Linked DNA regions of Homo sapiens: region 2 is linked to region 1. Evidence: fine-mapped expression QTL. A gene starts in region 1. The other region holds a variant in brackets. All regions are shown on one strand. Distances are from middle to middle. Region 1 holds the start of MOK (MOK protein kinase). Region 2 overlaps MOK (MOK protein kinase).

What was found.
Region 2: its variant is fine-mapped to the expression of MOK in subcutaneous fat (GTEx, PIP 0.91).

Annotation. Positions count from the first base shown.
Region 1 is chr14:102,297,232-102,313,870 of GRCh38, reverse strand. MOK (MOK protein kinase) reads left to right here and starts at 8,707. Exons shown (of 12, transcript NM_014226.3): 1 at 8,707-8,909. The coding sequence starts at 8,903. RefSeq lists enhancers at 8,488-8,537, 8,304-8,826.
Region 2 is chr14:102,229,360-102,240,068 of GRCh38, reverse strand. MOK (MOK protein kinase) reads left to right here. Exons shown (of 12, transcript NM_014226.3): 8 at 6,280-6,381; 9 at 7,361-7,534; 10 at 8,248-8,362; 11 at 10,412-10,612; 12 at 10,703-10,709. Among named protein-coding and RNA genes, the nearest start is that of MOK, 70 kb to the left of the region's middle. RefSeq lists an enhancer at 8,454-8,954. The variant G/C (reference allele first, on the strand shown) is at 5,418.

The DNA.
Region 1 (16,639 bases):
CAGAGTATTATAAGGTAGGTGGCCACACAACAGAATATATGGCCTCACAGTTCTAGTAGGCAGACGTCCAAAGTCAGGGTGTCGGGAAGGTCGCTTCCTTCGGAGGCTCCCACGGAGACCGCCCCAGGCTGTCTCCTGGCTTCTGGTGGATTTCGGGCCAACTTTGGCCTTCCTTCGCTTGTAGAAGCTTCACTCTGATCTCTGCCTGCATCTTCACATACTGTTCTCCCTGTGTGTCCCTATGTCCAAATCGCCCCTTTTGTGTAGACGCCAGTCATAATGGACTAAAGTCACTCTGAAGACCTTTTTTTTTTTTTTTTTTTTTTTTTTTAAGACGGAGTTTCCCTCTTGTTGCCCAGGCTGGAGCGCAATGGCGCGATCTTGGCTCGGCTCACTGCAACCTCCGCCTCCCGGGTTCAAGTGATTCTCCTGCCTCAGCCTCCTGAGTAGCTGGGATTACAGGCATTCACCACCACGCCCGGCTAATTTTGTCTTTTTAGTAGAGATGGGGTTTCACCATGTTGGCCAGCCTGGTCTTGAAGTCGTGACCTCAAGTGATCCACCTGCCTTGGCCTGGAAGCACGTACATTATTGCGAAGTTTTGACAAAGTCTCAAAAGTCTTTTTTATTTTGTTTTTGAGATGGAGTTTCGCTCTTGCCACCCAGGCAGGAGTGCAATGGCGTGATCTTGGCTCACTGCAACCTCTGCCTCCTAGGTTCAAGCAATTCTCCTGCCTCAGCCTCCCAAGTAACTGGGATTACAAGCGCCCACCACCAAGCCCAGCTAATTTTTGTATTTTTAGTAGAGACGGGGTTTCACCACGTTGGCAAGACTGATCTTGAACTCCTGACCTCAGGTGATTTGCTCGCCTCAGCCTCCCAAAGTGCCGGGATTTTGGGCGGAGCCACCGCGCCAGGCCCAAAGTCTTTGTTAGATGTAGGAAAGAGCAGTAGAAGGCCAGGCGCAGTGGCTTACACCTATCATCTCAGCACGTTGAGAGGCCTTGGCGAGCAGATCGCTTTAACCTAGGAGTTTGAGACCAGCCTGGACAACTTGGAGAAACTCCATCTCTCCCAAAAATAAATAAACTAATAATAATAATAATAGGCTGGGCGTGGTGACTCACGCCTGTAATCTCAGCACTTTAGGAGGCAGAGGCGGGCAGATCACCTTTGGTCAGGAGTTCAAGACCAGCCTGGCCAATGTGGTGAAACCCTGTCTCTACAAAAATACAAAAATTAGCTGGGCGTGATGGCGGGTGCCTGTAATCCCAGCTACTTGGGAGGCTGAGGCGGGAGAATCGCTTGAACCCGGGAGGTGGAGGTTGTAGTGAGCCGAGATGGGACCACTACACTCCATCCTGGGCAACAGAGCAAGACTCCATCTCAAAAAAAAAATAGCAATAATAATAATAAGCAGTAGAAGACAGGGAACTGGAAGCCACGAACTAGGATCCAAGCCCAGGGGAGCCACCAGCAAGTGAGGAACCTTGGCAAACAAAGCCCTTTTCCTCTCTGGGTCTCCAAGAACAGGCCACATGGCTTCTATAAACTCAAGTAAGCAAGGATTCTCTCTCACCAGCCCGTTTAATTTTATCAAGAGTTAAAGGTTGTCCTGGATCCTCAATAGTCATTTAAAATTGGGCTTGCCCCTGCCAGAAAGGAATGACAGAGCAGGTGACAAGTGGCAGGTGGCATTGCTTCTTGATTATCCAACAAGTATGTATGTATGTATGTATGTATGTATGTATGTATGTATGTATGTATTGAGACAGAGTTTCCCTCCTGTTGCCCGGGCTGGAGTGCAATGGCACAATCTCAGTTCACTGCAACCTCCACCTCCCGGGTTCAAGAGATTCTCCTGCCTCAGCCTCCCGAATAGCTGGAATTACAGGCATGTGCCACCACGCCCGGCTAATTTTGTATTTTTAGTAGAAATGGGGTTTCTCCGTGTTGGTCAGGCTGGTGTCAAACTCCCGACCTCAGGTGATCCTCCAGCCTTGGCCTCCCAAAGTGCTGGGTTTGCAGGCGTGAGCCCCTGTACCTGGCCCCAACAAGTATTTATTGAGCACCTGCTCTGCCAGGCCCTGTGTTAGACTTTGAGTAAAAATCAATGAGCATTTGTAGAGTATTCATCATGGACACGTGGACATCTCATTTAATCTTCTACTACCTTTTACCTTTTTTTTTTTTTTTAGTGACCAAGTTTCACTCTTGTTGCCCAGGCTCGAATGCCATAGCACGATCTTGGCTCACTGCAATCTCTGCCTCCGGGATTCAAGCGATTCACTTGCCTCAGCCTCTCAAGTAGCTGGGAATACAAATGTGTGCCACCATGCCCAGCTAGTTTTTTTGTGTATTTTTAGTGGAGATGGGGTTTCACCTTGTTGGCCAGGCTGGTCTCGAACTCCTGACCTCAGGTGATCCACCAGCCTCGGTCTCCAAAAGTGCTGGGATTACAGGCTTGAGCCACCATGCCCGGCCTTCTACTACCTTTTGTAGTGGGTATTTTTTTTTTTTTTTTTGAGACAAAGTCTTGCTCTGTTGCCCAGGCTGGAGTGCAGTGGTGTGATCTCGGCTCACTGCAACCTCCGCCTCCTGGGTTTGAATGATTCTCCTGCCTCAGCCTCCCAAGTAGCTAGGATTACAGGCGCCCACCACCATGCATGCCCGGCTGATTTTTATATTTTTAGTAGAGACAGTGTTTCACCATGTTGGCCAGGCTGGTCTTGAACTTCGTCTGAAAAAACTCCGTCTCAAAAAAAAAAAAAAAAAGAAAGAAAAAGGCTCACCGGAACCTCCACCTCCCAGGTTCAAGCCATTCTTGAACCTCAGGCAATCCACCCACCTCAGCCTCCCAGAGTGCTGGGATTACAGACGTGAGCCACTGCACCCAGTCTGCAGTGGATATTTTTATCCCTGCTTTACAAAAACAAGAAAACAGCAGTACTACAACTTGGCAGGAGTTACATAGTATGAGTCTCTCTCCTACCACTTTAAGAGCTGAATTTTAAGGCCAGGTGCTGTGGCTCATGCCTGTAATCCCAGCACTTTGGGAGGCAGAGGCGGGCAGATCACAAGGTCAGGAGTTCAAGACTCCACCTGACCAACACAGTGAAACCCCTGTCTCTACTAAAAATACAAAAATTAGCTGGGTGTGGTGGTGGGCGCCTGTAATCCCAGCTACTCCGGAGGCTGAGGCAAAGAATGGCTTGAACCCGGGAGGTGAACGATCCAGTGAGCCTTTTTCTTTTTCTTCTTTTTTTTTTTTTTGAGACGGAGTGTCGCTTTTGTTGCCTAGGCTGGAGTGCAATGGCGTAATCTCGGCTCACTGCAACTTCCACCTCCTGGGTTCAAGCCATTCTCCTGCCTCAGCCTCCTGAGTAGCTGGGATTACACGCATGTGCCGCCATGCCCGGTTAAGTTTGTATTTTTAGTAGAGACGAGGTTTTTCCATGTTGGTCAGGCTGGTGTTGCATTCCCGACCTCGGGTGATCCGCCCTCCTTGGCCTCCCAAAGTGCTGGGATTACAGGTGTGACCCACCGCGCCCAGCCTTCTTTTGTTTTCTTTCCTTTTTTTTCTTCTTTTCTTTTCTTTTTTTTTTTTAAGGAAGGGTCTGGCTCTGTCGCCCAGGCTGAAGTGCAGTGTCACCATCTCGGTTTCCTGCAGCCTCTGCCTCCCAGGCTTAAATGGTCCTCCCACCTCAGCCTCCTGAGCAGCTGGGACTACAGGCATGCACCACCATGCCCAGTTAAGTTTTGCATTTTTTTTTTTTTTTTTGAGACGGTGTCTCCCTCTGTTGCCCAGGCTGGAGTGCAGTGGTGCCATCTTGGCTCACTGCAACCTCCGCCTCCCGGGTTCAAGCAATTCTCTGCCTCAGAGTAGCCAGGATTACAGGTGCCCACCACCACGCCTGGCTAATTTTTTTATAGTTTTAGTAGAGACAGGGTTTCACCATCTTGGCCAGGCTGGTCTTGAACTCCTGACCTTGTGATCTGCCGGCCTCAGCCTCCCAAAGTGCTGGGATTACAGGCATGAGCCACCGCGCCTGGCCAATTTTTGTATTTTTTGTATTATTATTGTTATTTTTTGAGACAACGGCTCTCTCCTGTTGCCCAGGCTGGAGGTCAGTGGTGCAAACATGGCTTATTGCAGCCTCGATTTCCCAGGCTCAGGTGATTCTCCCACTTTAGGCTTCTGAGTAGCTGGGACTGCAGGCACCTGCCACCAAGCCCAGCTAATTTTTTGTATTTTTAGTAGATAAGGGGTTTCACCATGTTGCCTCGGCTGGTCTCGAACCCCTGAGCTCAAGCCATCCGCTTGCCTCGGCCTCCTAAAGTGCTGGGATTACAGGTGTGAGCCACTATTCCTGGCCAGGAAACCTTTTCTTACACTTAAAAAATTCTAAATGTATTTCTTTGAGTTCCTTTTTCTCAGAAACCTACACAGACTTCTTCGTAGACAGAATTTTACCTATTTTTGCATCCACACTAGACCAGGATCTAATTTCTAGAGTGCTTGGTTAACTACCATCCTTCATGTTAATTTCAGTGGCTAATGTTTTTGCTCCTCCTTATTTAATATCCTTGTTCAAGCTTAGTTTTCCCTGAGATGTGTTTATTATTTTACAAAATCAATCTAATTTCTAATATCTTTAGGTAGATTTGCGTTTTACCCACTTTAACAGTGTTAACACGTTTGAAATGTCTGTCATCCCTAGCTTTTCTGACTTGTTTCCTGGTTTGAACCTTAATTCAGATGCTCAGCAGAAGGAAATAGGTTGTCTGCTAAACATAGCCACATGGCTGAATCCCTTGACATTGGCAAATAGGGAAAAACTAATGCTAGAATATGGGATGAACAGTCTGAGGGAGTTTTAGAACGATTCAAAAAGCTCAAGTGGTTATAATTAGGTAGTGTTCATACAGTTTTAAAAGCGGAGCTCTGGAACTGGGCGCGGTGGCTAACGCCTGTAATCCCAGCACTTTGGGAGGCTGAGGCAGGTGAATCACCTGAGGTCAGGAGTTCGAGACCAGCCTGACCAATATGGTGAAACCCCATCTCTACTAAAAATACAAAAATTAGCCAGGTGTGGTGGCACGTGCCTGTAGTCCCAGCTACTTGGGAGGCTGAGACAGGAGAATTGCTTGAACCTGGGAGGCAGAGGTTGTAGTGAGCCGAGATCAAGCCACAGTACTCCAGCCTGCGTGACAGAGCAAGACTCTGTCTCAAAAAAAAAAATTTAAAAATAATAACTTAATAAAAAAAAAAAGCAGAGCTCTGAGATGCGTGGTGGTTCCATTTCACAAGCGTTTCCTGAGCATGTAATATGTGCTGAGCAGGCTCCTGGCTCTGGGTGAGCTGGGCAGGTGAGAGGCTTGGGGTGAAGACCCTCTCTGGAGGAGTTCACAGCCTGGTACTTCTTACTTATCTGTCCATTCAGGGCTGGAGTGGCCCAGCTAGGCAGGTGCTGAGGCCACCCAGCTGAAGCCTGAACAGGTTGACCCCTCCGCTGATGTTTGAGCGTGTTTACCACAGGAAGAGAAGCTCCTCAGCAATTGTTCCTTCTTTTCAAAGCAGCATTTCCTATTTCATTTAGAATTAAAGAAAGAATAAGGAATTCTCTAGGCCAGTGGTTTTCAAAATATGGCCACTGGTGCAGCATCACCTGGAATTTTGTGAGAGCTGCAAACTATCCCCCACTCCAGACTTACAGATTTAGAAATAATGGGGCGGAAATCCCTGATCGAATGGAACATTCTGGAGTTCGTCCCCTCACCCAACCTTAAGATGAACTTGGAACAAGGGTGCTCAGCCAGAGGGGCAGGTGAGGCCGCAAGTCCAGCTGCCCCTGTTCACCTAGGTAAGCACATAGACTGTGTCTACCCCCTGGGGGCACCTTGCTCTAAATCATCTGCCCAATCAGGACCAACATGGTCTCTACAACGTCACTTCTGAGAACCACTTGTCCACAATGAAGGGAAGAAGAAAATCCATCAGCACCTGGTGAATTGGGAAACAATGGGGCTCTCACTTGCTAAATGCATTCACCTGTTCACTTATTTAATACACTCTGCCCTGCAGGGTAGAGAAAAGACACATGAGGGGCCCAAGGAACTTAGAACCCACCTGGTTAGAAGAAACTAACAAGCAAGAGACAGGGTTAGAAATATAAATGTGACATAAGGGCAAGCCCCCAAATAAGAAAGAACACAAGAAGAGAAGAAGGGATAGATCAAATCCTAGTGGTCTGGAGAGATTAGATGTGGCTTCTCAAAGCCAACAAAGATAGCACCACCAACAATAATACACCAGCAATAATCGCTATTTATTTTTTCAACTTTTTTATTGAGAGAAAATTTACATAAAATTCACCATTGTAACCATTTATTTATTTATTATTTTTTGAGATGGAGTCTTGCTCTGTCGCCCAGACTGGAGTGTAGTGGCAGGATCTCGACTCACTGTAGCCTCCACCTCCTGGGTTCAAGTGATTCTCCCGCCTCAGCCTCCTGAGTAGCTGGGATTACAGGAGCGCATCACCACACCTGGCTAATTTTTGTATTTTTAGTAGTGACAGGGTTTCACCATGTTGGTTGGCCAGCTGGTCTCGAATTCCTGACCTCAGTTGGTCCATCCTCCTCGGCCTCCCAAAGTGCTGGGATTATAGGTGTGAGCCACCACGCCTGGCTTGTTTTGTATTTTATTTATGTATTTGCTTTTTTAGACGGAGTCTCACTCTGTCGCCCAGGCTGGAGTGCAGTGGCGCAATCTCGGCTCACTGCAACCTCCGCCTCCCGGGTTCAAGCAATTCTCTGCCTCAGCCTCCCGAGTAGCTGGGATTACAGGTGCCTGCCACCACACCCGGCTCATTTTTCTATTTTCAGTAGAGATGGGGTTTCACCATCTTGGCCAGGCTAGTCTTGAACTCCTGACCTGGGGATCCACCCGCCTTGGCCTCCCAAAGTGCTGGGATTACAGGCATCAGCCACTGTGCCCAGCCGTTTTGTATTTTTTTAGTAGAGACGGGGTTTCCCCCATGTTGGCCAGGCTGGTCTCGAACTCCTGGACTCAAGTGATCTGCCTGCCTCGGCCGCCCAACGTGCTGGGATTGCAGGTGTGAGCCACCGCGACCGGCCGCTTTCTCTTTCTTTCGAGACAAGGTCTTGCTTTGTCACCCAGGCTAGAGTGCAGTGGTGCTATCATAGCTCACTGAGCCTAGAACTCCTGGTCTCAAGATACCTCCGCCTTATTCTCCTGAATAGCTGGGTTTACAGGCATGTGCCACCGTGCCCGGCTTTTTTTTTTTTTTTTTTTTTTTTTTGAGTCTCTTGCTCTGTCGCCCAGGCTGCAGTGCAGGTGGTGCAATCTCGGCTCACTGCAAGCTCCGCCTCCAGGGTTCACGCCATTCTCCTGCCTCAGCCCCCGGAGTAGCTGGAACTATAGCGCCCGCCACTACGCCCGGCTAATTTTTTTTGTATTTTTAGTAGAGATGGGGTTTCACCGTGTTAGCCAGGATGGTCTCGATTTCCTGACCTCGTGATCTGCCCGCCTTGGCCTCCCAAAGTGCTGGGATTACAGGCGTGAGCCACCACGCCCGGAGTTTTTTTTTTTTTTTTTTTAAGAGGGAAGTGGGGTTTCTCTATGTTGCCCAGGCTGGTCTTGAATTTCTGGCCTCAAGCGATCCTCTTGCCTCGGCCTTCCAAAGTGCTGGGATTACAGGTGTGAGCCACCACACCTGGCCAATTCAGTCTTAAACCAATTTTCTGAGGCTTCGTTTTGGCAAGGCTACTTATCTGTTTTAAAAATAAACGATGTATTTTAGTAAAAGAAAAAAAATGGAGGAAAAAACAGGGTTTTGATCTCATGGAATAATTATGAGGCTAATCTAATGAGCTTCATAAAATACTATACCCATACATAGTATGCTTGTTATTTTATTGTTTTGTCAGGGTCCAGAGAACTAGGCCACTGTGTTGCTTAGGCACCGTGTCTGCACATAGTTCATTCCGGTGTACATTCATTCATCTTTACACTAGAATGTTAGTTTCAAGAACTCAGTCACCTCGTCTACACTGTCCTTTAATCCCCAATACCTGCGACAGTTCCTGGGGCAAAAACAAATGCTTGTTGAATTAAAAAGAAAAACTGGGCCGGGCGTGGTGGCTCACGCCTGTAATCCCAGCACTTCGGGAGGCCGAGGCAGGCGGATCACCTGAGGTCAGGAGTTCGAGACCAGCCTAACATGGTGAAACCCCGTCTCTACTAAAAATACAAAAACATTAGCCGGGTGTAGTGGTGGGTGCCTGTAATCCCAGCTACTTGGGAGGCTGAGGCAGGAGAATCGCTTGAAGCCGGGAGGCGGAGGTTGCAGTGAGCCGAGATCACGCCATTGCACCCCAACCTGGGTAACAGAGCGACACTCTGTCTCAAAAAAAAAAAAAAATTCCTGTAGAAGCTCCCAAGCCCAATTAAAGCTCAAGGCTATCGTCCACGTAGTGGGTTCCAAATCGCTAAGTTCCCAGGCCAGCAGGGAGAGCGAGCCGAGCGAAGGTCGCCTGTGTCAAAGGCGGGGATTTGCACAGTATTTACATGGAAGCGGAGGAAAGGCTGCTTAGCAACCGGGCTGAGGGGACGGGCTGCACTGCGCACGCGTACATGGGCGGGGCATCTTGCGCATGCGCAGGCGACAGCTCATGGCGTTCAGGGCCTGACGGTTGCTAGGGTGACAGGGACACAACATGGCGGCGGGATCTCTAACGCTCTCCTTCGAGGGACCACCACGGAGATCCTAGTGCGGGACCCCGCCTCAGGGAAGTGGAAAGCAGGGGGACAACCTTCCTGCTTCTTTCTTTTCCGTCCAGTGTCGGCAAGGGGTTGTCACCGGCTTCCGCATCCAAGATGAAGAGTGAGTGGGGCCGGGGAAAGGGGCAGGGACTGGAGAGCGAGTGGCGGGGGAGGGAGGGACTGGGGGAGCTTGAGGAGCTTGAGGGGCCTGTGGGGCCGGGCGTCGTCGCCTTCTGCCGTGGCTCGACAGGCCCGGGAGGCTCCGCATGTGGGCCCCGAATCCCCCTCGGCTGTGAGAAGCCGGTGCCCCTGGGGGAAGCTTGAGGGGTTGGGGCTAGGTTGGGAACTTTGGGGTCTCGGAGAGCCGACTCGAGTTCCCGCTCAGGCATATTTTGGTGCAGGTGCGTGGTTCTTACATTGGAGTTTAGGGAGTTGACTGTGATTCATTTTATTTTATTTTAAATGCTGGCTTGAACCTGACACTCTTTTCCTGAACATTCGGCAGAAAACGGGGGAGCGCTTACAGCGTGGCTCCCTGCCTTTTCATGATACTGGTTTAGTGACCAATTGAGAGGAAAGCTGGGCTGTGTGCTTTATTTTATTTTTTGGGTCAAGCAGTAGTGTTTTATAGGAACCACTTTTTAATAGTAGTTTTGAAGCAACCTTTTAGTTAAAAGCTGTTACTTCAAAGTTGGGAAATGAGGTAGTCATTCTAGAAAATGTAACGGGTAAAAAATTTTCTTTAGTGGGATTTGTGGATTATTGACAATCCAAGTGCAACCAGCTAGAATGATGTTTTTAAAATTATTATTACTGTACAGATATAATTGTTTATGGTTGTGAACCAGAGGTGCAGTAAAAATTCAGACCTTTGCTGTGAAAATATTATGTTAGGAGTAGTTATAATGTTAAATTTGCATTGTATCCTAATTGTCAATGGTGTACATTGCATAACATTTAAAATAATTAATCTCATTCACCCTTTACAAGGCATTTTTATTTTTATTTTATTTTGTTGGATATTGTTTAATGTTTACCTTTTTCATTAATGCACTACAAAGCTGTAGTTAGAATCCAAGGTCTACAAAAGACTTTACACTTTTACTTACAGTGCAGACTATGATACTGCACATATTTTGTACTATATTCATTTTTTTCTTCCCATCTGTTTGTTTTGAAAATTTTCAGATGTACAGGAAAGTTGCAAGAGCAGTACATTGAATATTTATAAACCCGTCCTTCACTTAGCTGCACCATTTTGCCTTATTTTTGTGTGCTCGCTTTCGCTCTGGTGTTTTCTCTCTCCCATTTATGTATTTATTTTCACTGGACCTTTCAAGAGTTAGTTGTAGACTACTAATAATTCACCACTTCTTTCAGCAGTTATCTGCCAAGAACAAGGACATTCTCCTACATCATCACAGTACAAATAACACATTTAGAAAATTTAACAATGATACAATACTCTGATACACAGTCCATATTTCAGTTTTTCCATTTATCCCAATAACATGTGTTATAGTTGTTTATATTTTTTCTATCCAATCAAGAATCACCAATTGTATTCTGTTGTCATATCTCTTTGGTCTCTTTTAATATGGTGTCCCTGCCTTTTGTGTCTTTCATGACAATGATATTTTCATTTTTATTTGGCTGTCCTCTGTAGGCCAAATGACATTTTTAAAGAATCCAGCCCAGTGTTTTGCAGAATATCGCTCAATTTGGATTTGTCTGATTTTCGCCTCATGATTAGCTTCAGCTTAAATGTTTTTACCAGGAATATGTGAGAGGCAACGTTGTGTCTCTGTCAGTGTGGCCCTTCCAGAGTGCCTGATGTCAGTTCGTTGCAGTTTTGCTGAAGTTAGATTTGATCATTTGGTTTATTTATCTACCTTCTTTTTCTCTTAGACTCTTTTTTTTTTTGGACAGGGTCTCTCTGTGTCACCCTGGCTGGAGTGCAGTGGTGCAATCTTGGCTCACTGCAACCTCTGCCTCCCGGGTTCAAGTGATTCTCCTACCTCAGCCTCCCAAGTAGCTGAGATTACAGGTGTGCACCACCACGCCCAGCTAACTTGTATTTTTTGGTAGAGACGGGGTTTCAACATGTTGGCCAGGCTGGTCTCAAACTCCTGACGTCAAGCGATCCACCCGCCTCAGCCTCCCAAAGTGTTGGAATTACAGACGCGAGCCACTGTGCCTGGCCTTCCTCTTAGACTCTTCATACCCCACTACCTAGAGGCATCACTTTCAGTAATTTACTCTCTCTATATATATTATATATAAATATATAAATGTGTATTTCTCCCTTTTTAAAAGACTAATGTTAGCACTGCATGTGTATACCTATATAGAAATATGTACATATGCTGCCTGGGCGCAGTGGCTCACACCTGTAATGCCAACACTTTGGGAGGCCGAGGCGGGCAGATCACGAGTTCAGGAGATCAATACCATCCCAGCTAACACGGTGAAACCCCGGCTCTACTAAAAATACAAAAAATTAGCCAGGCGTGGTGGTGGGCACCTGTAGTCCCAGCTACTCGGGAGGCTGAGGCAGGAGAATGGCGTGGACCTGGGAGGCAGAGCTTGCAGTGAGCTGAGATCGGGCCACTGTACTGCAGCCTGGGCAACAAAGCAAGAGACTCCGTCTCAAAAAAAAAGAAAATAAATATGTATATATGCGTATATATATATAAAATTTACATTTGTGGGCCGGGTGCAGTGGCTCACGCCTGTAATCCCAGCACTTTGAGAGGCTGAGGTGGGTGGATCACTTGAGGTCAGGAGTTCGAGACCAGCCTGGTCAACATGGTGAAACCCCGTCTCTACTAAAAATACAAAAATTAGTCAGGCGTGGTGGCAGGTGCCTGTAATCCCAGCTACTTGGGAGGCTGAGGCAGGGGAATCGCTTGAACCTGGGAGGGGGGCGTTGCAGTGAGCTGAGATCGCACTACTGCACTCCAGCCTGGGCAACAGAGCAAAAAAAAAAAAAAAAGTATATGTGTGTATACATATAAAATTTACATTTATGGGGCGGGTGCAGTGGCTCACGCCTGTAATCCCAGCACTTCGGGACGCCGAGGTTGGCTGATCACTTGAGGTCAGGAGTTCGAGACCAGCCTGGCCAATGTGGTGAAACCCCATCTCAACCAAAAAATACAAGAAAAAAAAAATCAAAACAAAACAAAATACACAAAAAATGTACATTTATGATTTACTTCTTGTAAACTTTTGTTTTTAAAGTATATTTAGTATTGTTTGGTATGTTCTTTTAGATGGTCATTTTGGTAGTTTTCGGTTACTTGGTTTAGTGGTGACATCTTTATTCTCCCTTTCTTCCTTCTACCTTAAAATGTACTCTAAGAATTATTGTAACCTTTTATCCCCCTGGTTTACATCCTGATCATTAAATAAATGATTTAAAAATAGTTAACAATGGAGAGAATATTCCAGAACTGGAAATCACAGAGACAGAGTTATAGAAGTAGAATGATCAGGAAAAGTGAGTAATGGTGAAATTGGATCCATAGCTTGGGGTCAGAGTGGGGCTGGGAATGCTAGATTATTACAGGGGTCTGTCAGGATTTTCTAGGTATATTTTTGTACTTGTTTTCTAGGTGATGCCCTGTGTTTAGGGGTGTGTTATTCTGTGGAGTATTCCTGTCCTTCTTTTTATTTGGCATCGTTTGCAACAGTAGAGAGCAAAGAGTGACACAGTGCAGTTGATAAGAGCGTGGGCTTTGGAACCGGGTGGGCATGGCAGCTTCAGGCATGTTACTTTTTCTTATACTGCTTTTCTTCATTGTTCCGGTTATCTATTGCTGCGTAACAGATCACTTCAATTTTGTGGCTTAAAGGAACAACAGTCCTTCTTGTGGTTCTTCAGGTTGCCTGGATTCAACTAGGCAGGTCTTACTGGAAGTCTCTCATGCACTCAGATGGTGGCTGGAGCTGAAGTCATCTTAAAAGTTTGTTTTTTATTTTGAGATGGAGTCTCACTCTGTTGGCCAGGCTGGAATGAGTACAGTGGCACAATCTTGGCTCACTGCAACCTCTGCCTCCTGGGTTCAAGCGATTCTCCTGTCTCAGCCTCCTGAGTAGCTGGGATTTTAGGCGCACCACCACACCTGGCTAATTTTTATATTTTGAGTAGAGACGGGGTTTCACCATGTTGTTCAGGCTGGTCAAGAACTCCTGACCTCAGGTGATCCACCTGCCTTGGCCTTCCAAAATGCTGAGATTACAGGTGTGAGCCAGTGTGCCCAGCCCACATTCATCTTTAAACAGGGATGATAATACCAATCACATAGCATTGTTTCAAAGATTAAGTGAAATCATCTATATAAAGCTCATAGCACAGTGTCTGATACATGATAAATTGTGAATGAATTATTATTTGCTATTTCAGCAGATGGAAGGCAGGGATATAAAAAGGGAAAGAATGAAAACATCAGTCAGATCCTGACTTGGAAAAGTTTCCCCTTATCTAGTCTAGTTAAAGTACCACTCTTTTTTCCTGTCTGAACTTTCTTTTTTGTTTGAGATAGAGTCTGTTGCCCAGGCTGGAGTGCTGTGGTGTAGCCACAGCTCACGACAGCCTCCATCTCCTGGGCTCAGGCAATCCTCCCACCTCAGCCTCCTGAGTAGTTAGGACCACAGGCATGTGCCTCCTCGCCCAGCTAATTTTTTTTTTTTTTTGGTGGAGATGGGGTTTTGCTGTGTTGCCCAGCCCAGGCTTTTTTTTTTTTTTTTTTTTTTTGAGATAGAGTTTTGCCCTGTTGCCTAGGCTGGAGTCCAATGGCGCGATCTCGGCTCACTGCAACCTCCACCTCCCGGGTTCAAGTGATTCTTCTGCCTCAGCTTCCCAAATAGCTGGGATTACAGGTGCCTGCCAACATACCTGGCTAAGTTTTGTATTTTTAGTAGAGATCGGGTTTCACCATGCTGGCCAGGCTGGTCTCGAACTCCTGACCTCAGGCAATCTGCCCGCCTTGGCCTCCCAAAGTGCTGGGATTATATGCATGAGCCACTGTGCCCGGCTCCCCGGCTTAAGTTTTTAATTGTTTACTAGAGATGGGGGTCTCCCTATATTGCCCAGGCCGGTCTTGAACTCCTGGATTATAGGCATGAGCCACTGTGCCTGGTCCTGTCTCAACTTTTTAATGAATTATTCAAAACATACCTATAAAAAGAGAAAAGTGGCCAGGCATGGTGGCTCATGTCTGTAAACCCAGCACTTCGAGAGGCTGAGGCAAGAGATTGCTTAAATCCAGGAGTCTGAGACCAGCCTGGGCAACATGACGAGACTCTGTCTCTACTAAATTTAAAAATTGGCCAAGCATGGCAGTGCATGCCTGTGGTCTCAGGTACTCGGGAGGCTGAGGGAGGAGCATTGCTTGAACCCAGGAGTTTGAGGCTGTAGTGAGCTGGGATCACACCACTGCTCTCCAGCCTGGATGTCAAAGGAAGACCCTGTTTCAAAAAAATAAAACAAAAACCCAGAGAAGTTACACTCTGAAGACGGTAACAGTTTGCTATTGTATCAGAGAGAATTTTTCTTTTTTTTTTTGTAGGTAGTCTCACTCTGTTGCCCAGGCTGGAGTGCAGTGGTATGATCTTGGCTCGCTGCAACCTCTGCCTCCAGGGTTCAAGCAATTCTCATGCATCAGCCTCCCGAGTAGCTGGGATTTATAGGTGCAAACCACCACACCTGGTTAATTTTTGTAGTTTTAGTAAAGATGGGGTTTCACCATGTTGGCCAGGTTGGTCTCGAACTCCTGACCTCAGGTGATCTGCCCGCCTCGGCCTCCCAAAGTGCTGGGATTACAGGCGTGAGCCACTGCGTCCGGCCCAGAGAGAATTTTTAAAAGTATCTGTTGTAATTACAATGAGGTTTAAACTGTCTTTTTTTTTTTCCGCCATGGAAAGAGTCAAGTAATTTGTCTTTCTTAAATGCTGGTGTGTCCGCAGTTGGTGGGTTCTTGGTCTCACTGACTTCAAGAACTAAACCTCAGACCCTCACGGTGAGTGTTACAGTTCTTAAAAGCAGTGTGTCTGGAGTTTGTTCCTTCTGAAGTTCAGATGTGTTGAGAGTTTCTTCCTTCTGGTGGGTTCGTGGTCTCACTGGCTTCAGGAGTGAAGCTGCAGACCTTCGCGGTGAGTGTTATCGCTCTGAAGGCGGCGCATCTGGACTTGTTCATTCCTCCTGGTGGGTTCGTGGTCTTGCTGGCCTCAGGAGAGAAGCTACAGACCTTTGCAGTGAGTGTTGCAGCTCATAAAAGCAGCCTGGACCCAAAGAGTGAGTAGCAGCAAGATTTATTTTAAAGGGTGAAAGAACAAAGCTTCCACATTGTGGAAGGGGACTGGAGCATGTTGCCACTGCTGGCTTGGGCAGCCTGCTTTTATTCTCTTATCTGGCACCACCCACATCCTGCTGATTGGTCCATTTTACAGAGAGCCAATTGGTCTGTTTTACAGAGAGCTGATTGGTCCGTTTTGACAGGGTGCTGATTGGTGCGTTTACAATCCCTGAGCTAGACACAAAAGTTCTCCAAGTCCCCGTGAGATCAGCTAGACACAGAGCACTGATTGGTGCATTTGCAAACCTTGAGCTAGATACAGGGTGCTGATTGGTGTGTTTACAAACTTTGAGCTAGATACAGAGTGCTGATTGGTGTATTTACAAACCGTGAGCTAGATACAGGGTGCTGATTGGTGTGTTTACAAACTTTGAGCTAGACACAGAGTACTGATTGGTGTATTTACAATCCCTTAGCTAGACATAAAGGTTCTGCAAGTCCCCACCAGATTAGCTAGATACAGAGTGCTGATTGGTGCATTTACAAACCTTGAGCTAGACACAGAGTGCTGATTGGTGTATTTACAATCCCTTAGTTAGACATAAAGGTTCTCTAAGTCCCCACTAGACTCAGGAGCCCAGCTGGCTTCACCTAGTGGATCCCACACCAGGGCTGCAGGTGGAGCTGCCCGCCAGTCCCACACCATGTGCCTGCACCCCTCAGCCCTTGGGCAGTTGATGGGACTGGGCACCCTGGAGCAGGGGGCGGTGCTCCTCGGGGAGGCTTGGGCTGCGCAGGAGCCCACAGCGGGGGTTGGGAGGCTCAGGCATGGCGGGATGCAGGTCTGAAGCCCTGCCTCGTGGGTAGCAGCTGAGGCCCAGAAAGAATTTGAGCACAGGCAGGGCCGGTGGGCCGGCACTGCAGGGTATCCGGTGCACCCTCAGCAGCTGCTGGCCCGGGTGCTAAACCCGTCACTGCCCGGGGCCAGCAGCACCAGCTGGCCGCACCTAGTGCGGGGCCCGCTGAGCCCACACCCACCCAGAACTCATGCTGGCCCGCAAGCACCACGTGCAGCCCCGGTTCCCGCCTGCACCTCTCCCTCCACACCTCGCGGTGCCTCTTCCTCCACACCTCCCCGCAAGCTGAGGGAGCCGGCTCTGGCCCCGGCCAGCCCAGGGAGGGGCTCCCACAGTGCAGCGGCGAGCTGAAGGGCTCCTCAAGCGTGGCCAGAGTGGGCACCGAGGCCGAGGAGGTGCCGAGAGCCAGCGAGGGCTTCAAGGGCTGCCAGCACGCTATCACCTCTCACTAGTATTTTCATGGAATCAAAAAAGGTACCTCAAATAATCCTTTTCATCTCCTTCTGTGAGCATCAATTTTTGTTTTTATTTTATTTGTTTATTTATTTGTTATTGTTATTATTATTTTTGAGACGGAGTCTTGCAGTGTGGACCAGGCTGGAGTGCAGTGACGTAATCTTGGCTCACTGTGAGCTCCGCCTCCTGGGTTCATGCCATTCTCCTGCCTCAGCCTCCAGAGTAGCTGGGACTACAGG
Region 2 (10,709 bases), 71 kb after region 1:
AGGTAATGTCATCAGTTAAGGCAGGGCTGGCCATTTTCACTTCTTTTGTGATTCTTCACTTGCTTCGGGCCATCTGGATGTATACTGCAGGCTTGGGCTCAGAGGCCTGACAGTAAGGATGACCTGGAAAGGGCCTTCCCATTTTGGTTTAAGGCTGGTTGGGTTAAGGGTTTTTTTTTGTTTGATTTTTGTTTTTTGTTTTGAGACAGAGTCCTGCCCTGTCGCCAGGCTGGAGTGCAGGGCACAATCTCAGCTCACTGCAACCTTTGCCTCCCAGGTTCAAGTGATTCTCCTGCCTCAGCCTCCCGAGTAGCTGGGACTACAGGTGCCTGCCACCATGCCCGGCTAATTTTTGTATTTTTAGTAGAGAAGGGGTTTCACCATGTTGGCCAGGATGGTCTCAATCTCTTGACCTTGTGATTCACCAGGCTTGGCCTCCCACTGTACTGGGATTACAGGCGTGAGCCACTGTGCCCAGCCGGGTTAAGGGTTTTTAGAAAAACATGTTCTCCTGGTAGGAGGGTCTGGTCAGTGAGGCCTTTATGTGGTATTGGGAGGGCCTGGTGTGCCTGTTTGCAGAGGAGATGGCGGATGAGGGAGAGTGCTGGGAGGTACTCTCCTAATTGAGAATCAGAAGGAGGCCTGTTTTGTAAGAGGAAAGGGTCTCAGAAGGAGGCCTGTTTTGTAAGAGGAAAGGGCATCCATACATTAATTCAAATGGGCTGAGGAAGGAGGGTGCCTTTGGGCTGGCTCTGACGCTGGCTAGAGCTATGGGTAGGAGGGAAGTCCAGGGCCTCTGGACTTCTAGAGTGAGTTTGATCAACTGAGTGTTAAGGTTTCCATTTGCCCTTTCGACTTTTCCTGATGATTGGGGTCGATATGGGATATGGAGGTGCCACTGGATGCTGAGGGACTGGGAGAGCTGTTGGGTGATTTGGGAAATGAAGCCAGGGCCATTGTCTGATTGATTGGAGCGAGGGAGACCAAAGCTAGGGATGATTTCTCTTGTGGGGATCTGGGAGACTACTGCAGCTTTTTCTGAAGAGGTAGGAAATGCCTCCACCCACCCAGAGAAGATGTCTATAAGAGTGAGAAGTAGTCTTGTGTTTTTGACGGGAGGCATGTGGGTGAAGTCTATTTGCCAGTCTTCCCCTGGGAGTGTTCCTCTTAGCTGGTGTGTAGGAATAGATGGGGAATGGAGGGCTCCTTGAGAGGAGGTGACAGAGCATATATGACATTTTGAAGTTATACTTTTTAGTGAGGTAAATAGGTGAGGGGAGAAGAAATATGGGCGGAGGAGGAGATATAGGGGACATGCACCAATATGGAAGGATTGGTGGAGAGATGTCAGGATTTTGTCGGTTTGGCCCTGGGGAAGGTCTAGCTTCTGGTCCTTATCTATCCAGTCCCCCTGGAGGAAGGCTCCTTGTTATAGTAATGAGGCTTTTTCAGTGGGGGGTACTGAGGTTGGACTGCAGGGGTAATGAGGAGGAGGGAGGCAGGAGCGGAAGAAAGGGAGGCTTCTTTTGCTGCCCCATTGGTCTTTCTGTTGCCTCTTGAGATTTTATCTGTTCCTGTGTGATGTCCCCAACAGTGTATAACTCCTGCCTCAGTTGGGAGATGTGCGGCTTGAAGGAGTTGGTAAATAAGGGGGTGGTTAGTGATAGGGTCACTTTGGCAGTAAGGAATCTCCTCTCTTGCCAGATGGTGGCGTGGGAATGAAGAATGTGATATACATCTTTGGAGTCTGTGTAAGTGTTGACTCGTTTGCCTTTGGAAAGGGTTAGGGCTCTGGTGAGAGCTATGAATTCTGCTTTTTGAGAGGAGGTTCCTGGAGGTAGGGGCTTAGCTTCAATTACTCGGTCAAGGGAAACAACTGCATACCCAGCAATTTTGGGGGAGCCAGTGGGCCCAGAAGGGGGGCCATCTATAAATAGCTGGTCATCGGGGTTGGTGAGAGGCTCGGAGGAAATGTTAGGAAAGTGTGGCTGCAGGTGATCTAGGACGTCAGTGCAAGAATGAGTAGGAAGGGAAGAAGATACAGGGAGTAAGGATGCTGGGTTGAAGGGAGCACTTTTGGCAAGACCGAATTCAGGATTTTTGATAGAGGGCATGGAGTAATTGAATCCGGAAAGGAGGGAGCCTCATGCTCGGGAGGAGAGGAGATCCTGTAGATTATGAGGACTGTAGGTGGTGGTATTTTGACTCAATGTTAGTTTCCTGCTTACAGCTAAAGTGGCCGCTGCTGCTAGCATTCTAAGACAGGTTGGCCATCCTCTGACTGTGTTGTCTAACTGTTTAGAGAGGTAGGCTACAGGGGCAAAGGAAGGAGGGTCTCCTTTCTGTTGCCCTAAGACACCGAGGGCTATTCCTCATCTTTTGGCAGTATAGAGTGTGAGAGGTTGGGAGATACCAGGTAAGGACAGAGCTGGTGCAGTGACAAGAGCGGTTTGAAGTTTGCAGAAGTTGGGGAGTATGTTACGTGAGGGATTTAGAGGCTCACTGAGAGGGCCTTTGGCTGCTTCATAGAGTGGGTGAGCTAGGAGGGCAAAGTTGGGAATCCATATTCTAAAAAAGCCTGCTAGTTCTAGGAAGGAAAGAACTTCGCTTTTGGAGGAGGGCGAGGGCAGATTATCTATTAGTGCTGCTAGGGCAGGGGTCATAGCCCGGGTCCCAGGGGAAAGTTGAACTCCTAGGTAAGTTACTATGGAGGTGGAAAGTTGAGCTTCGGAGGGGGAGACTCTATACCCTTTGATGGAGAGAAAGTTTTAAGAGAGTAACTGTGTGAGTTTGAGAGTCTTCTAGAGAGGGGCTGCAAAGGAGAAGATTGTCCACGTATTGAAGGAGACGGCTAGGGAAAAGGTTTAAGGAAGTGAGATCTTGAGCTAAAGCTTGTCCAAAGAAGTGAGGGTTATCTCTGAAGCCTTGAGGGAGGACAGTCCAGGTTAGTTGTTGTGACTGGAGGGTGTCAAGGTCGGTCCAGGTGAAAGCAAAGAGGTTTTGGGAATCAGGGTGCAGGGGAATAGTAAAAAAAGTCATCTTTTAGGTCAATAGCAGTGTAGCAGGTGGTGTTGGAGGGAATGAGACAGAGAAGTGTAGAGGGGTTAGGGACTATGGGATGAATAGGAAAGACAGCCTGACTGATGGCTCGGAGGTCTTGCAGGAGTCGGTATGAGCCGTCTGATTTTTTAACCAGGAGGATGGTGGTGTTATATGAAGAACGTGTTGGCCTAAGAAGACGGCGTGAACAGAGCTTGTTTGTGATGGGCTGTAAGCCTTTTTGGTGGGTTAGGGAGATAGGGTTTTTGGGGATGCTGGGAAATTTAGAGAGGTCTTTTAACTGGATTTTGATGGGGTCGTGGTGAGTAGCTAGGGAAGGGGTGGTGGTGTCCCACCCTGTTGGGTTTACAAAAGAGGTGGGAAGTGGGTACTGGGGAGAGGGGTCAGGGGCTGGACTCGCATAGAGGAGTAGGAGGGACTCCGGTTGAGGGAGGGAGAAAAAGGTGATAGAAGCTTTGAATTTGGCCAAAATTTGAATTTGAATTTGGCTTTGAATTTGGCCTAGGATGGGGGTAGGGCAACGAGGCATGATAAGGAAAGAGTGTGGGAAAACAGTATCAAACAGAGAGCAAGTAAGGGGTCTGGTGGCGCGTGGACGCAAGATGAGTCCATCAGCCCCCACAACTGAGACCTGAGAGGGATGAGTGGGTCCTGAAAATTCAGGCAAAGCTGAGTAGGTGGCCCCGCTATCAATTTAAAAAGAGATCGGCTTACCTGCTACTCGCAGAGTTACCCTGGGCTCCAATGCAGTGATGGCAGATGGGGCCGGGGGCCCTGGGCCCGGTCAGTCCTCAGCGGCTAGGCTGAGGAGCTGCGGGAATGCAAGCGGTTCTTCACTTTTTGTCTTGTTAAAGGGGTGGTGGCTCTGAGGAGCAGGCTTGTCTGTCTGTTGAGAGGACAGTCGGACTTCCAGTGGCCTGTCTGCTGGCACACTGGACAAGGACTCTTTGGCACTCAAGGGTTAGGATACACCCATGCCCAGTGGCCTTCTTTGCCACACTTAAAACAAGGCCCGGAGGGTTGCTGCTATCGGGTCTTTTGTGCCCTTGGGTGATACGGCTGGGTTGATGGACAGCCGCTGCTAGAAGCTGGTATTTAGCACGATCTCTTTGGGCTTTATCTAATTTATTTTGCTCATCCCTGTTATTAAAGACTTTGAAAGCCAAGTTAAGGAGGTCTCGTTGTGGGGTCTGAGGGGCATCTTCAGCCTTTTTAAGTTTGCGCCAGATGTCGGGGGCAGATTGGGAAATAAAATGGATGTAAAGAACAATAGTTCCTTCCCGGGAGGCGGGATCGACACGCGTGTATTTTTGGAGAGTCTCTGTAAGGCGAGAAAGGAATTGGGCAGGGTTTTCATTGGCCTTTTGGGAGATTCCTTTGAGTTTTTCGAAATTTACAGCCTTATGGGCAGTTTTGTTAAGGCCTGCAGTGAGGCAAGTAATCATATGATTACAGGAGGTCTGGCAGGGGCCTGTGGGTTGATACGCCCAGGTACGCTCTTCTCAGGGAACTGCAGCGGCCCCTACTGGCCTAGTAGGATCTTGCCGATGGAGGTCATCGGCATGGGCCTGGGCTGCAAGCCACACTCTTTCCTTTTCTTCCGGAAGGAGGGTAGAAGACAAAATAATATAGAGATCATGCCAAGTAAGTTCATAAGACTGGGTGAGATATTTAAATTATTTGATGTAAGTGTCGGGATCGGAGAAGAACCTGGACGTTTCTCAATTTGGGAAACATTAGAGAGGGAAAATGGGACGTGGACACGGACCATCCCTTCGGCCCATGCCACTTCCCGGAGAAGAAGCAAGGGAGCAGGCTGCTGGGCGTGTTGGGCTCGAGAACGAGTAAGGGGTGGAGATGGGGAGGACTCAGAGTCGGAGGTGGGGTGGTTGGAGAGAAGGGGAGAGAGAGGTAGAGCCGGAGCGGAGGCATACGGTGGGGGGTCATGCTGTTCCGGTGGAGGATTAGGATGTTGTCGAGGAGGGGAGAAATCGGTGGGATCAAAGAAGGAGAAGTCGTCCGCTGGGGCTATTGGGATGAGGGGAGCAGGAGGTGAGTCGGGTTTGGAGCAGGCGAGGAGAATTTGAAAAGTACAGCAGGACTGGCAGAGGGAGGGACGACTACAGAGAGTAAAGAAAGCCTGAACATGAGGAATCTCAGACCACTTCCCACTGCGGTGGCAAAAGTTGTCTAAGTCTCTGAGCATGTCGGAATCGAAAGTGCCATTTTCAGGCCATTGGGAGCCATGGTCTGATTTGTATTGAGGCCATGTGGTGTTACAGTAAAAGATAAGCCTTTTAGGGCAGATTTCTGAACGGAGGCCAAGAGTATACAGATTGTGTAGGAGGCACCCAAGG[G/C]GGGTAGTTTTAGGAGGAATAGACTGAGAGGCTCCCATAGTGAATGGAAGGGAGGGGGGTAGAGGAAGAAGAGACTGCCGGTGACGTCCCCTTTCCCGCGGAACTTGTCAGGAATAGAGGAGGTAACCACCGTGTCAGGCGTCCCTGAAACGGAGGAACCAGAGGCCTGGAGGCTGGAGGAAGCCCTTGGCCCAGCGCTGGGTCTTTCGGAAATGGGAGATGGACGGTCAAGAGTTCAGGGAATGGCAACAGTCTCTTTTTACTCACCCTGGCGGAGGCTTTGATGGTGGATGAAGTCACCAGCAATGGGAGAGTCTAGGAGATTGTCTGGGTCTTTGGCAGGTTCGGGGAAGGGGAGATTGGCCAGGAGAGGGGTGATAGGGGAGGGAGGGAGAGAGAGAGAAAAAGAGAGAGAGAGAGAGATTGATAGTGAGCGAGTCCTGGCCAGAGTCTATCCCCCTTCCCGGGTTTCGGCACCAGAATGTTAGGTCATCCGAGAGAAAGGAAAAATTGACCTAAAGTCAGGCAAGCAAGTTTTTATTAACCTGCCACCGGCCGCTTAACAGTCAGAGGAAGCAGCCCCAAGCTTACAGATTGAGGGGTTTATATTGGGGAAGGGAGTTTGAGGGAGTTCTTCGGTATGGTCACATCCCGGGGTTGTTTGCTGGTTAATTTTGCCACATATCACCTTGTGATGTTTACGGTAGCAGCTAGATGAACAGCAGGAACTTACAGAAGGGTGTAGGTAAAGTTTGTTTATGCTTCCCACGATCTCCCCTTGTGCGGTCCAGATGGTTTGTAATTGGTGAGGTCTGTTGGCTCTGCCCTAACACTGACCACAGTGCCCCTTCTGCCCTTCCAGTCTGCAGCCCCTCTTTCCTGGAGTAAATGAACTGGACCAAATCTCAAAAATCCACGATGTCATCGGCACACCCGCTCAGAAGATCCTCACCAAGTTCAAACAGTAAGTATTGTGTTCTGAGAGTGGATGTGGACCCACTCCCCTGCTAGGACCTGCAGCAGGGCAAGCCCCTCCCTGTGCCTCCCTCAAACCCCTCTCAGGAGCTCCTTTGGCTGACTACAGGGGTTCAAGTTCACTTGAGGGCCAGTGAGTGGCTGCTCAGACAGAGCCCATCACTTTAAGTGGTCTCAAAGGTGAGCTCTTCCTTGAGCATCACAGAAAGATTTGTCACAGGCTTTCTGAGGGCTGGGGAGTCAGGCTGTGTTCCCTGAGTAATTTAAACAGGACTTAGAAGCCTTTGGGTGGAAACGTTCCCCAAGCACAGAGCATAGGTGGTGAGGGCTTTCTGCAGCCCTCCACAGCCCTGCTGGCGGGACCGACGCCTGGAAGAGGTGTTCCCGGACTCTTAGGGTCATTCTGGTGAAGCTGAGGCTGGGAGTTGGGACTTCCCAGGGAGGGCCTGTGGGCTGAGGGGCAAGTAGCACCCAGCGGCCCCCACATCCCAGGGAGGGAGAAGGTGGCAACCATTTTGGACTCTTCTTTTTTTGTTAAATTTTATTTCATTCTTCTCATGTGGGAAGGTGATATTAATCTTTTATAGGAAAGGTAGTTTTCTTACATTTTTAGCATAACAGATCCCCCCCTTTATAATAGACTATTTTTAAATAGATTTTTTTAAGAGCAGTTTTAGGTTTCCATAGAGCCCTGTCCCCATGTGCACACAGCCTCCCCTGTCGTCAGCACCTGCCTCGAGTGGTGTGTTTATTATGGTCGATGAACCGTGGATATCTCATTACTACACAGAGCCCATCATTTACATCAGGGGTCCCTCTTGGTGGTGCACGTTCTGTGGGCTGGGACAGGTGTAGACTCTGCAGTCATAAACCATTCCCCACCACACAGGGCCCTTAGTTGTGACAGTGGACCACCGGTGCGCTCAGTGACAGCATGACCATTTATTATCATTGGGTTTTTAATACAGGTCGAGAGCTATGAATTTTGATTTTCCTTTTAAAAAGGGATCAGGAATACCTCTACTAACAACCAATTTGTCCCCACAATGCCTCTCCCTCCTGCACGCAATGGTGGCCTATGATCCCGATGAGAGAATCGCCGCCCACCAGGCCCTGCAGCACCCCTACTTCCAAGAACAGAGGTAGGCACTCTCGTGGGTTCGGTGGGGCAGATGCAGGACCTGGCAAATGAGACCCATGGGCACATGGTGGGGCAAGGTACTGCCCCCTGGAGGGTCCCTGGTTCTTGGGAATCGCGCTCTCTATCCTGAAGAGTGGTCAGGGCCTCTTGGGGCCCACACCGTGCTGCCTTCTGGTGTATCCTCCCCAAAATGAGGATGTTAGCAGCTCCACGGCAGGAGAAAGAGGGGCTGGCTGTCCACTTTGCGGTTGATGCCAAGGCTACAGGTAGTAATCCTTCTAGAAGAGCCTGGTGTGCGGCCCTTGTAAATGGTGTGAACAGGATGCATTCTGAGATGGTAGAGCACTGTGGATGTCACCTGGCGCTGGAAGTACCTGCTGAATGTGAATCTAAGACCTGTCTGCCCTGAGGTCACCTAATTCCGGACCTCTGGACACTCCTGTTTGCCTAACTGTGGAGGTGACAGTTTGATCTGAAACTGCGAGTCCCTGGGTAGGCAGCGCTTCTGATTCATGGAGCCAGCTCTGTTCCTGGCCCAGAGACTGTCAGGCTGAGACAGAAAAGAAAAAAAAAGGCTCCTGATTACAGCTCAGGCAGAAAAGAAGAGCTAGTGACAACTCACACAGTAGACAAATTGGAGACAAAGAAGCCAGTAGGCCGTGTGCTCTGCGGGCTCTCAGTGGAGCTGCTCCATTCTCTTCTCCTTCCCCGTAGGAAAACAGAGAAGCGGGCTCTGGGCAGCCACAGAAAAGCTGGCTTTCCGGAGCACCCTGTGGCACCGGAACCACTCAGTAACAGCTGCCAGATTTCCAAGGAGGGCAGAAAGCAGGTACTAAGCGAAATCGGAGCCGGAGACTGCCTAGCTCAGCCGGGACTGGATGCCCTCGGGTGGCCTGTGTCTCTCTCAGGAGGACGCCACCTGTGGAGGCTGTGGCAGACCACATTGTCAGTCGAGGCCTGAACAGCATGCGAGTTGATGGCTCCATGTGTTGGGACATCAGGGACCCCAGTTCTATTTGCTCAAGCCCTTTCTGCCCCAGTAGCTAAGAATTGATGACGAATATCCCATGTGAGCAGGCCCAGAGAGGGGATGTTTGCATGAACTTTTGTGTCTGTCCTGATGACCATATGCAGGTGCCAGGTTCTATGCCAAAGCACCGTGCAGACATCGCCCCTCAGAACGGCCCTGGAGGGAGGCGCCAAGAAGATGCAATGCTGGCCCAAGTCACCCACCCAGCCAGTGACAGGTCTCAAGTCACTGTCTCTGCCTGGCTCCAGATGAGCACTTCGTCCCATCAGCAGAGGTTGTGCACATTTTCGGTTGAGAAATGCCAGCTTTGCCCCTCAGTGCCTTCACCTTCCCACCTACCGTGTGGCATCCTAGCCTGGTGCAGCCCTGTGTCACCTGCTGGCAGGGTCACACCAGTCTCCCAGTTCTGGGCTGGCACCCCAACAGTGTGACAGTGTGCCCTTCCATCATTCGTCTGTTCGGTCGTCCGTACGTCACTCGCTCCTCCCAGCCTTTACCGAGTGCTCCCTGACCGCTTGGGAGCTGGGAACCCAGAGCTGCAGTCAGGCTGCTCTCCAGAAAGCCAGGCTCCTGTGTCCCATTGGTCCCTGATTTGACAGCTCCACTTGAATGTCCGAAAGACAGACTTGCTGAAACCCCTTCTCCTGATCTTTCCCCAAACGTGCTTTTTCCCTGTGGCTTCCCATGGCCTTCCCTCCGAGGGAGGCAACTCCGTCAACTGCCCAGGCCCCCCGTGGACCCTTCCTTCATCCCACAGGGGCTTCGCCTTCTTGCCTCCTACATCCTCCTCACCTTGCCTAAGTCACCACAGATGGCCTCCTCACTACTGTCCCTGCTCTGCCTCCGCTCCCTCCTGGACAGAGGGTCTGCTTCAAACCCTTGATGTCACTCCTGGCCGGCATTCACCCAAGTCCCCACCCTCAGTCACATCCGAGGTCGGCATATTTTTCTCTAAGGGTCTGATAGGAAATATTTTAGGCCCCGTGGCCGTGGGGTGTTCGTTACACTCCCTGCTTTGCTGCAGTGTGAAAGGAGCTGGAGGCAACACATGAACCACATAGGGGCTGCGTTCCAGTAGAACTGGGGACACTAAAATTTGAATTTCACATAATTTTCACATGCCATGAAACATTTTTTTTTCAGTCATTAAAAATAAAAACCAGGTGGGTGCGGTGGCTCACACCTGTAAACCCAGTGCTTAGGGAGGCCAGGGTAGGATCACTTGAGGCCAGGAGTTTGAGACCAGCCTGGGCAACGTAGGCAAGACCACTGCCCCACCACCCCATCTGTTTTAAAAATTAGCTGGGTGTGGTGCGTGCCTTTGGTCCCAGCTACTTGGGAGGCTGAGGCAGGAGGATCGCCTGAGCCTAGGAAGCTGAGGCTACAGTGAGCCAAGATTGCACCACTGCACTCCAGTCTGTGCTACAGAGCAACAAACACCGTGTCTCAAAACAAACAAACAAACAAAAAACCCCAAATGTAAAACCATCCTTAGCTCACAAGCCACCCAAAACCAGGCGACAGGCAGATCAGGGTGTGAGACCTTGGAGCTAGAGCAGGAGGCAGGAGGCGTGGGCACCACAGCCCGCGAGCCCTTTGCCGCCCGCACTGCTCAGCTTGCAGTCGGCATTCTTCAGGTTCCCCCTGAAGGTTTGGCCTCCCCCGTGGGACTCTAGTGGGCAGCCACTCCCTTGGGGTGTCTGGGACCTGGTGGATGTGTCCCAGTCACATCTTATGGTCAAGAAATTGTATTAGGCAAAAGCAGTACAAAAGAGCCTCTTTCGTTTTTCCTAATTTCCATAAAGCAGAAAGCGTTTTATGTCCAACTGGCCTCTGTTCTGTTTCAAGAAACAGTCCCTAAAGCAAGAGGAGGACCGTCCCAAGAGACGAGGACCGGCCTATGTCATGGAACTGCCCAAACTAAAGCTTTCGGGAGTGGTCAGACTGTCGTCTTACTCCAGCCCCACGCTGCAGTCCGTGCTTGGATCTGGAACAAATGGAAGAGTGCCGGTGCTGAGACCCTTGAAGTGCATCCCTGCGAGCAAGAAGGTAGCGCGGAACCAGCTTCTCTGACGGCGCTGCTCTTCGACCCAGCCCAGGCCGCCACTGAATTTTGTGTCTGTAATTTTTCTTTGACAGACAGATC